Linked DNA regions of Homo sapiens: region 2 is linked to region 1. The links come from fine-mapping of genetic effects on gene expression. A gene starts in region 1. The other region holds a variant in brackets. All regions are shown on one strand. Distances are from middle to middle. Region 1 holds the start of FCRLA (Fc receptor like A). Region 2 has its middle 13 kb from the start of DUSP12.

What was found. PIP is the estimated chance that this variant, and not a neighbour inherited with it, causes the effect.
Region 2: its variant is the best candidate, but not a certain one, in a credible set for the expression of FCRLA in fibroblasts (GTEx, PIP 0.72).

Annotation. Positions count from the first base shown.
Region 1 is chr1:161,705,030-161,709,424 of GRCh38, forward strand. FCRLA (Fc receptor like A) reads left to right here and starts at 2,200. Exons shown (of 5, transcript NM_032738.4): 1 at 2,200-2,314. The coding sequence starts at 2,236. RefSeq lists enhancers at 736-955, 2,496-2,675.
Region 2 is chr1:161,734,854-161,739,248 of GRCh38, forward strand. It overlaps the pseudogene RN7SL466P. Among named protein-coding and RNA genes, the nearest start is that of DUSP12, 13 kb to the right of the region's middle. RefSeq lists enhancers at 1,248-1,357, 4,145-4,354. The variant G/C (reference allele first, on the strand shown) is at 2,015.

The DNA.
Region 1 (4,395 bases):
AACTTGATAGCTTCACCCCAAATCTTCAGAAGGCCCCTTGCCTTCCATATTGACAGTGGGGTCCTGCAAGGATTGCTGCAGATGGTATAGGGGAGGGTCTCTATCCAGGTAAGATGCTATGGTAAGGACAGTAAAGGAGAAAGGGTGACATAAGAAGAGAAAGATATCATGATTTGTTTAGAAGCCCCTTAGCCTCTGCCTAACCCTGAGGGTCTATGTTTTATGTAGTTTTAGGAGTGGCGATGCATCTAAACACATTTTATTTGTTTAATTCGTACACCTGTAATCCAGCACTTTGGGAGGCCGAGGTGGGCAGATCACGAGGTCAGAAGATCAAGACCATCCTGGCTAACAGGGTGAAACCCCATCTCTACTAAAAATTCAAAAAATTAGCCGGGCGTGATGGCACGCTCCTGTAGTCTCAGCTACTCGGGAGGCTGAGGCAGGAGAATGGCTTGAACCCTGGAGGCAGAGGTTGCAGTGAGCCGAGATCGCGCTACTGCACTCAAGCCTGGGCAACAGAGACTCCATCTCAAAAAAAAAAAAAAATTATTAAGGCTAGCTAGGCTTTTCTTCCTCTTCTGAGGCTTCACATCACATCAGCTGCAAGGCTTACTGCCTCACTGCCTTCCCCAGCACCCATATTCAACCACCCCTGGACTCCCTGGGGCCACCTGCACAGAAGCGTATGCCTCTCGATAATGGAAATTTTATTCTAAATGCTTATTTTAGACTCAGAAAGATCCACTCTCTTATGCCCGTGTGGTTGATATGTCTGCTCTGACCTGTGGTTTTTGCACAGTTGAAGGGTCATACTGTCCCTCTCTCTGCCTTCAAGGAGGACCAAACTACCTTCCCCCATTTCTCTCTCTCTCTTTTTTTTTTTTTTTGTGAGATGGAGTCTCGCTCTGTCACCCACACTAGAGTGCAGTGGTGCAATCTTGGCTCACTGCAACTTCTGCCTCCTGGGTTCAAATGATACTCATGCCTCAGCCTCTGAAGTAACTGGGACTACAGCCATGCACCACCATGCCCATCTAATTTTTTTTTTTTTTTTTCAGTAGAGATGGGGTTTCACCATACTGGCCAGGCTGGTCTTGAACTCCTGACCTCCAGTCCAGTGATCCGCCCACCCTGGCCTCCCAAAGTGCTGGGATTACAGAGGCATGAGCCACAGTGCCTGGCCTACCTTACCCCATTTCTGATGGCTCATTTCATCTCCAAATAACCTACTGGAGGCCTGGTGGGTGTTATGATGACAGAAAGGGGAGGAATGTGGCCACTGTGAAAAGACACATGGGCCCTACCATTAAGTAGGCCTCAAACAAATAGCAAACATTCAGAGGCAGGGACAATGGTTCCCAGGAGGCCATCTGGAACGGAAGGGAGAGGCTGTAGCCTCTATATTGCTCCTATTCCTGAGTCTCCTCAGGTTTCTCAAGATATCGGATGCCTCCTATCTCTAATTTCCTCAGGATCAGTGGCCTGAGCTTTGGCTATGAGCCTAAGCCCTGAGCTGACTGCTGGATCCTCTGGGAATAGATTTTCTTTTTCCTCTACTCTTTCCCAGTGGATTCTCCCTGCCTTGTACTCATATTTCCACTGAGACTGAGCAGACTTAGTCATGCTCCAGAAATAGAGAGCTGACACGAGTCTAGAGAAATTTGCATGCAAATTTGTGTGGGCTTTGGATAGTCAGAGCCTACTAGAGACTAATCTGATATCTAACTTGGTGCCGTGACTAATCTTCCTTCTCTGTCTCGCTACCTTCTAGTCACTAGAAACATATAAGTGTTGGAATGGGCAGGACATTTGAATTCTCATCATTGATTCTCCAGTGATTTTCTATTGGCCTTCAAACAACATCCCACCTTCTGTCCCCAGTTGCATCACCAGTGAAAAGGGTGGTTGTTGCACTGACCTTTCCCAGAGTGTACATGAAGGCCAGCTGGCTATCAGACAATGACATGCTTTGACAGGCCCCTGAGCTCTGTGAGTAAATTCTTGAACAGCTGAGAGTGCTACCATTTTGTCATAGCCCTAAGGGTGCAGATGATGCTGAAAGCGTGTTGGCCAAATCTGAATGATGAAAGCCAATTACAAACTAGAAAATGAAAACAGACCCCAGATGCAAGGAGATGAGACAGTTAAATTTACTTCCTCTTTTCTAATCTGAGAGGTTTCATGTTGAAGAAAATCAGTGTTGGGGTTGCAGGAGACCTAAACACAGTCACCATGAAGCTGGGCTGTGTCCTCATGGCCTGGGCCCTCTACCTTTCCCTTGGTGTGCTCTGGGTGGCCCAGATGCTACTGGGTAAGTAAAATATTTGAATATTGGTGTGGGAATGGAGCTTTGCTTACCTTGGGAGAAAGGACCAGAAGGAAAGAAACATGGACTAATTCTGGCCCTCCAAAGAAGCAGTATTCAGGTGGAATAAGAAGGGTAGGTATAAGAAAGTTTGGTGTACAGGATTGAATTACTTTCTGAATATAAAAATCTTCCATCCTGAAAGTCCCCTCTGATCATGATATCCTCTCTAGCTCTAATCTCAACTCTTTTCTTTCACTTGTGAGACAAGTTTTCTTAAAAGAATAGTTTGCACTTGCTATCTCCACTTCCTCACTTCTCACACGCTCCTCAATGCTTGCAGCCTGGCTTCCACTGGAATTGGTTTTGTCTAGGGCACAACGATCTCTATATTGACTGGGTTATGGCATGCTTTTCAGTTCATATCCTGCTGGACTTCTCTGCTGCACTGGGCTCTGTTGATCACTTACTCCTTCTTGCATTCTCTACTACCCTGGCTTCCATGGCACCATTTTCTCCTTGTACTACATGGACTTCTCTTGATCCCTTAATAGCTTCTCTTCTCTTCCCCTTAAACACTAGTGTTCTCTATAGTTATAGCCTTGCCTCTGTACTCCTCTTTCTTTACACAATCTCCTTCATGAGCTTATTTGTCTGTTTAATTTTTGCCACTATAACTCTGTATTTAAGAGTCCCAAATCATATCCCCAACCCTAACCATGCTTTTGAGCTTCACATTCAAATATCAAGCTTCATACCAGACATATCTACCTACATATCTCACAAGTGTCTCTGCACCATGTGACTAGAGTTGAACTTATCTGTCCTTTTGGCCCCTGCCTCATCTAATTCATTTTCCACTTTCTGATCTCAGCTAATGACACCAGCATCTACCCTTACAAGGCCATAAACCTCAGAAACAACCCAGACTCTTCCTTCTTTTTCATTCTCTAAATCTGATCAATCATTAGGTTTGGCCAATTTTACCTTCTAAATTGTTCATAGAAGCAGTCCCTTGCCTGGATCATCACTAATGTCTTAGGACAAGCCCTCATCCTCTATGACTTGGGCTATTCCAGTAAATTCCTAACTAATCTCCTCGTCCAAACCTTGTGTTCTTGAAATGAATTCTGTACCCTGCAGACAGAGTAATTTCTAAAACTCAAGTTTACCAGCCCAAATTCTTTATCATGGCACAAAAGGCCAAGCAGCCTCTACTTTTACCCTCTCAGCCTTGTAACTTATGCTCTAATAAATCTCAATCAGTTCATATTTACATACTCACACACCAGACTCTTGCCTGTCTCTAAGGCTTTGCTTATACCACTATCTCTACCTGAAATGAGTTCTTTCCATGGCACCCTACTCTCCTTCTCCTTGCAAATGTGTAGGTACCCCTAAAGACTCAGCTTAAATGGTATCTTTTCCAGGTAGCTTTTCTTGAATGCTTCTTTCTGCTCCAATGGCTGCTTGCGATACATTTTTCTTATTATAATATTTTCCTACTTATGCTGAAATAATATTTTCATCTACCTGTGTCTTCCACTAAATTGAGAGCTATTTGTGGGTAGTGACAATGTTTTTTTGTTTTTGTCTTGTGATAAGAACTGCAGACTTGGAATCAGATACTCCTGTTTCAAGCCCCTCTTCTATTTACCAGCTCTATGTCACTTTAGAAAATCACTTTTTCTATTTCTGGTTCAGTTTTCTCATTTGTAGAATGAAAATAATAATACCTACCACCTAAGGTTTATTGAGTGAGTTCCCAGTAACCCAACAAGATTTTATTTTATTTTATTTTATGTTTTGAGACAGGGTCTCGCTCTGCCACCCAGGCTGGAGTGCAGTGGTGCAATCACTGCTCACTGCAACCTTGACCTCTTGGGCTTAAGCAATCGTCCTATCTCAGCCTCCCAAGTAGCTGGGACCACAGGCAAGTGCCACCAGGCCTGGCCAATTTTTTAAAAAATTATTTGTTGAGACAGGGTCTCTCTATGTTCCCCAGGCTGGTCTCAAACTCCTGGGCTCAAGGGATCCTCCCACCTCAACCTCCCAAAGTGCTGTGATTATAAGCATGAGCCACCACG
Region 2 (4,395 bases), 30 kb after region 1:
TAACCTATTTTTATTTTGTTTTATTTTTATTATATTTTAAGTTCTGGGGTACATGTGCAGAACGTGCAGGTTTGTTACATAGGTATACATGTGCCATGGTGGTTTACTGCACCCATCAACCCGTCATCTGCATTACGTATTTCTCCTAATGCTATCCCTTCCCTACCTCCCTAGCCCCCAACAGGCCCCAGTGTGTGATGTTCCCCTCCCTGTGTCCATGTGTTCTCATTGTTCAACTCCCACTTATGAGTGAGAACATGCGGTGTTTGGTTTTCTGTTCTTGTGTTAGTTTGCCGGGAATGATGGTTTCTAACTTCATCCATGTCCCCCCAAACCACTCGTTTTTTAAATAGCATATCTCCAGTTTTAAAATTTGGGACCCATGACTTACTTACCATGTTCCTCAGATGGATGTGTCCAGGGAGAATACGGCAGGAAGGCAGGGTTTTATTTTTATTTTGTACAATTAAACAATTGTACTTGTGACAGGATGTCAGAAATGATATTTCAAGATACAGTGGACATGAAATTCTGAAGCTGGATCATCATATGAAGAATTTACAAAGGAAATGGTTGAGGATCTATCTGTTCCTTGACTTTTGGACTCTGAAATCATGTCAAGGGATAAAAAGGGGCCAGGATATGGAGAGGAGAGAGGATCTGTGAAATGATTTATTTGCCATATTTCCCCTTCATAGTGGGGAGGCATGGGAAGCTTACCTCCTCATTCTCAAGCCTAATGAGAAAGATACCCATGGAATCACCCAGGTAGGTCTGAAATGTATTCTCTGCAGTAGGGAGATACAGGGAACTGGGCCTGACTTAGGCTTGAGAAAGTTAAAGTGAGCTATGGTGGTAGGATAGAAGAGCCTATTTTAGGATTAGCCAGCCCTACAAAAGATCCAGGAGCCACATCTATATATATTTCTGTGGCCTATGAAAAACAGAGTGCTTGCTGGGCACAGTGGTGCATGCCAGTAGTCCCAGCTCCTCAGGGGGCTGCAGTAGGAGGATCGCTTGAACCCAGGAGTTCTGGGCTCTAGTGCACTATGCCCATTGGGTATTCATACTAAGTTCGGCATCAATATGGTGATCTCCTGGGAGCAGGGGATCTCTAGATTGCCTAAGGAGAGGTAAATGGCCCGGGTGAGAAATGGAGCAGGTCAAAACTCTGTGCTGACTAATAGTGAGATAGCACCTGAGAATACCCACTGCACTCCAACCTGGCCAACACAGAAAGACACTGTGTCTTTATAAAAAGAAAGAAACAATAACAATAAAATTAAGAAGAAAGAGACCTAGTATGGGGTTGCCTTGGTTCCTGTACTATAGGGTCACCAGGAGGGGCAGATAAAGGCACCAAAAAGCTGGAGTTGCATCTATATTCCTAGGGGCAGAGGAAAGAGGTGCACTGGAACACCTGGAGGAGAGATGCATCTGCCTTGAGCACAACACCCTAAGGAAACAATTCCCAGAAATAAACATCCAAAAAGTCTACAAAAATGCTCATGGGAGAACAAGTTAGCTTTAGCCACCTGTCAAATTCAGAGAGTAGAAAGCAGCTCAGCCAAATAACTTTCTGTTCCCTTACCTATTCTCCCTTTCTTCCCTCTGCTCTCCTACTTTGGCCTACGTGAGAAGCAAACAGACGCTAATGAGAGGAGGAGGGGATGTGGAGAGAGAGAGAGAGAGGGAGAGAGAGAGAGAGAGAAACACCAATCAAGTCCCTTCCCCAAGTCAACACCTTAAATGGATAAGTAAGAAGACAGACTTACCTTTGGATAAAGACTGGAGGTCTGATTAACATCTAGAATGGGCATCCTGATTTAGAAATTGAAACTATACTTGTAGCCTAAAGTCATTATAAGACTCTCCATTACCTAAAGAAGCAGAAAAATCATGGCTATTTGCAAACTTTAATGTACACATGAATCACCAGGGCGCTGGGTGATTCATGTGTACATTAAAGTTTGCCAATATCCACGGCAAATGCAGATTGTGATTCAGTGGTCTG[G/C]GGTGGGGCCTGAGAGTCTGCATTTCTGAGAAGCTTCTAATTGATGCCAATGTTGAAGGTTCTTGGGCCACACTTTGAGTAGCAGGGTGCTGTGAGCCAGGGAGGATTACCCACACTGAATACATTTTAAATTGATTTTGAAAGATAAAAGAGCTACATTTTGATCAGGTAATGAATTGTGCTTTTAACATACAAGTTACACTTTATTTAATTTTTCAAACATTATTATGAATATAGTCTATTTGAAAACTTCATACTGTATTAAAAAAATGTTAAGCCTATTTTTCTTGCCATCCTCCCACCCACTCCCTCAGTGGGTTATAGATGTAACCACTATTTAACAATTTGATGTGCACTCTTCCAGGCCTTTTATTTTAAAAAAGAGCTTTTTAAGTATATTATTATATTGATCAGGATTCAATTTCAGAGAACAGAATTAACTCTAGCTGGATTAAGGAGGAAGGAATTTATTACACAGTATTTAATAGCTTACAAAATGGTTGGGAGAGATGAAGAGACAGACTGTAGTTTGTGTTCTCAGCAAAGTTTCCCAATATCAGTTCAACAAGGGAGTTGCTGCCTCTTCTGAGATCAGAAATTTGCCAGCCTTGGGTCACACAGCCATTGCTATGATTAAGAAAACAGTCACGATAGAAGAGACACTGCTATTGCTACGGTGCCAAGACCATACCTGTCTTCTATGGTCCAAGGAATGGATGCTCAGGGCCCTGCCCCTAGCAACACAAAGCTAGATCCTGGACACTAGGTAGGTACTATTGCTGGTAAAGAAAAACCAAAATCTTTCTCAACCAGGTTTCCAGAAGCAACATCAGCTGCAGTAGTACAGCCTCCGCTTCACTTTTACCTTCCATGTGTTGTATAAGGGCTTCTGAATGGCCAGACTTAAATTACACCAAGCACCTCACTGCAGGGGAGTCACGGTCCCTTTTACATTTCCAGGCTCTGCAGTTCAGAAAGGCACTTGAGATGGTAATGAGTGGATGTTGACACCACCTCTACAGACAACAAAGGGGTTAGTCCTAGAATTTTATTGCTGGAAAAGACTTAGGGATTTAGTCTAACTTGTTAATTTGAGAGAAAGGAAATTGAGACCCAGAGAGCTGAAATGACTTGATAGTGATGGAATAGAAATAGAACTCCAGCCATTTACATGGAGTTGAATGTAGCCTAACGAGATAGCTTCCTCTCCAGGACTCGTGATATTCTCCAGCCCCATTGGGCTTATTGCCTATAAACTTACCAGAGAGATTGTTTTCATCTAAAGCACACCTCTTTGCTCCCCAACTTTTGTTTATGCAGTTCATTTTGGGGACCAAAATGCAAAACCTTATACCTTATATTTATCTCTTTTAAATTATGTCTTTGTTAATGTAATAAGACAATTTTTGATCCCAGTACAGTCCCTCCCAGCTTGTAACACATGCATATTAGGTAAGCATATCTTTATGCTCTAATCAAAATTACTTTTTTAAAAAATTGAATAAAGCAGATGAAAGAAATTTGGGTGGAGCTCTATCTCACTAGAAATCTATTTCTTGATCGCTACCTATCTGTGTTGTACTCTTTTGGTATGATTGTTTGACCAATTACCAGCCTAGTTGACTGTTCTCTCTCTATTTTTTTTGTATTTTTTTTTTTTTTTTGAGACAAAGTCTTAATCTGTCACTCAGGCTGGAGTGCAGTGGCACGATCTTGGCTCACTGCAACCTCTGCCTCCTGGGTTCAAGCAATCCTCCTGCCTCAGCCTCCAGAGTAGCTGGGATTACATGTGCTTGCCACCATGCCTGACTAATTTTTGTATTTTTAGTAGAGACAGGGTTTCGCCATATTGGCCAGGCTGAGTAGTTGACTGTTCTCATATTGAGCTCATAATTATCTCCCTTGTCCACAAGGAGGTCTGTCCAGAAGCCTAGGGAAGTACCCAGTATATGAACATTTCCCTAATCTGCCTGTCTACTCATCCTGTCAAAAAAAAAAAAAAAGAAAACCAAAAAAACAGACTATCAGGGCAAGACCATTCTTGGTAAGCTCATGCTGGCACCTAGTGGACACTGCTTCTTTTTAGGAGCATTTACAAGCCCTTCCTGCAGTCATCTGCCCTGAGAATATCATTTTGGATTGGAGGCAGCCTTAAGGTTTGATAGCCTGAAGGTATAGAAGCAGGTGGGACTTGCCCATGGAGTACCCCTGTAGCCCCAGTAAGGGGATTTGAGATCCTCTGTGAGAGGGCTGTGAACATGAAGCCTGTGAGGGACAAGGACACGAGACTGCAGGAGCCCTGGCCTATGACAGCACTGCGACTCTGTGGCCACCATAAGGGCGGATGTGGCCAGGGTGACTGAACACATGTTCCAAGACAG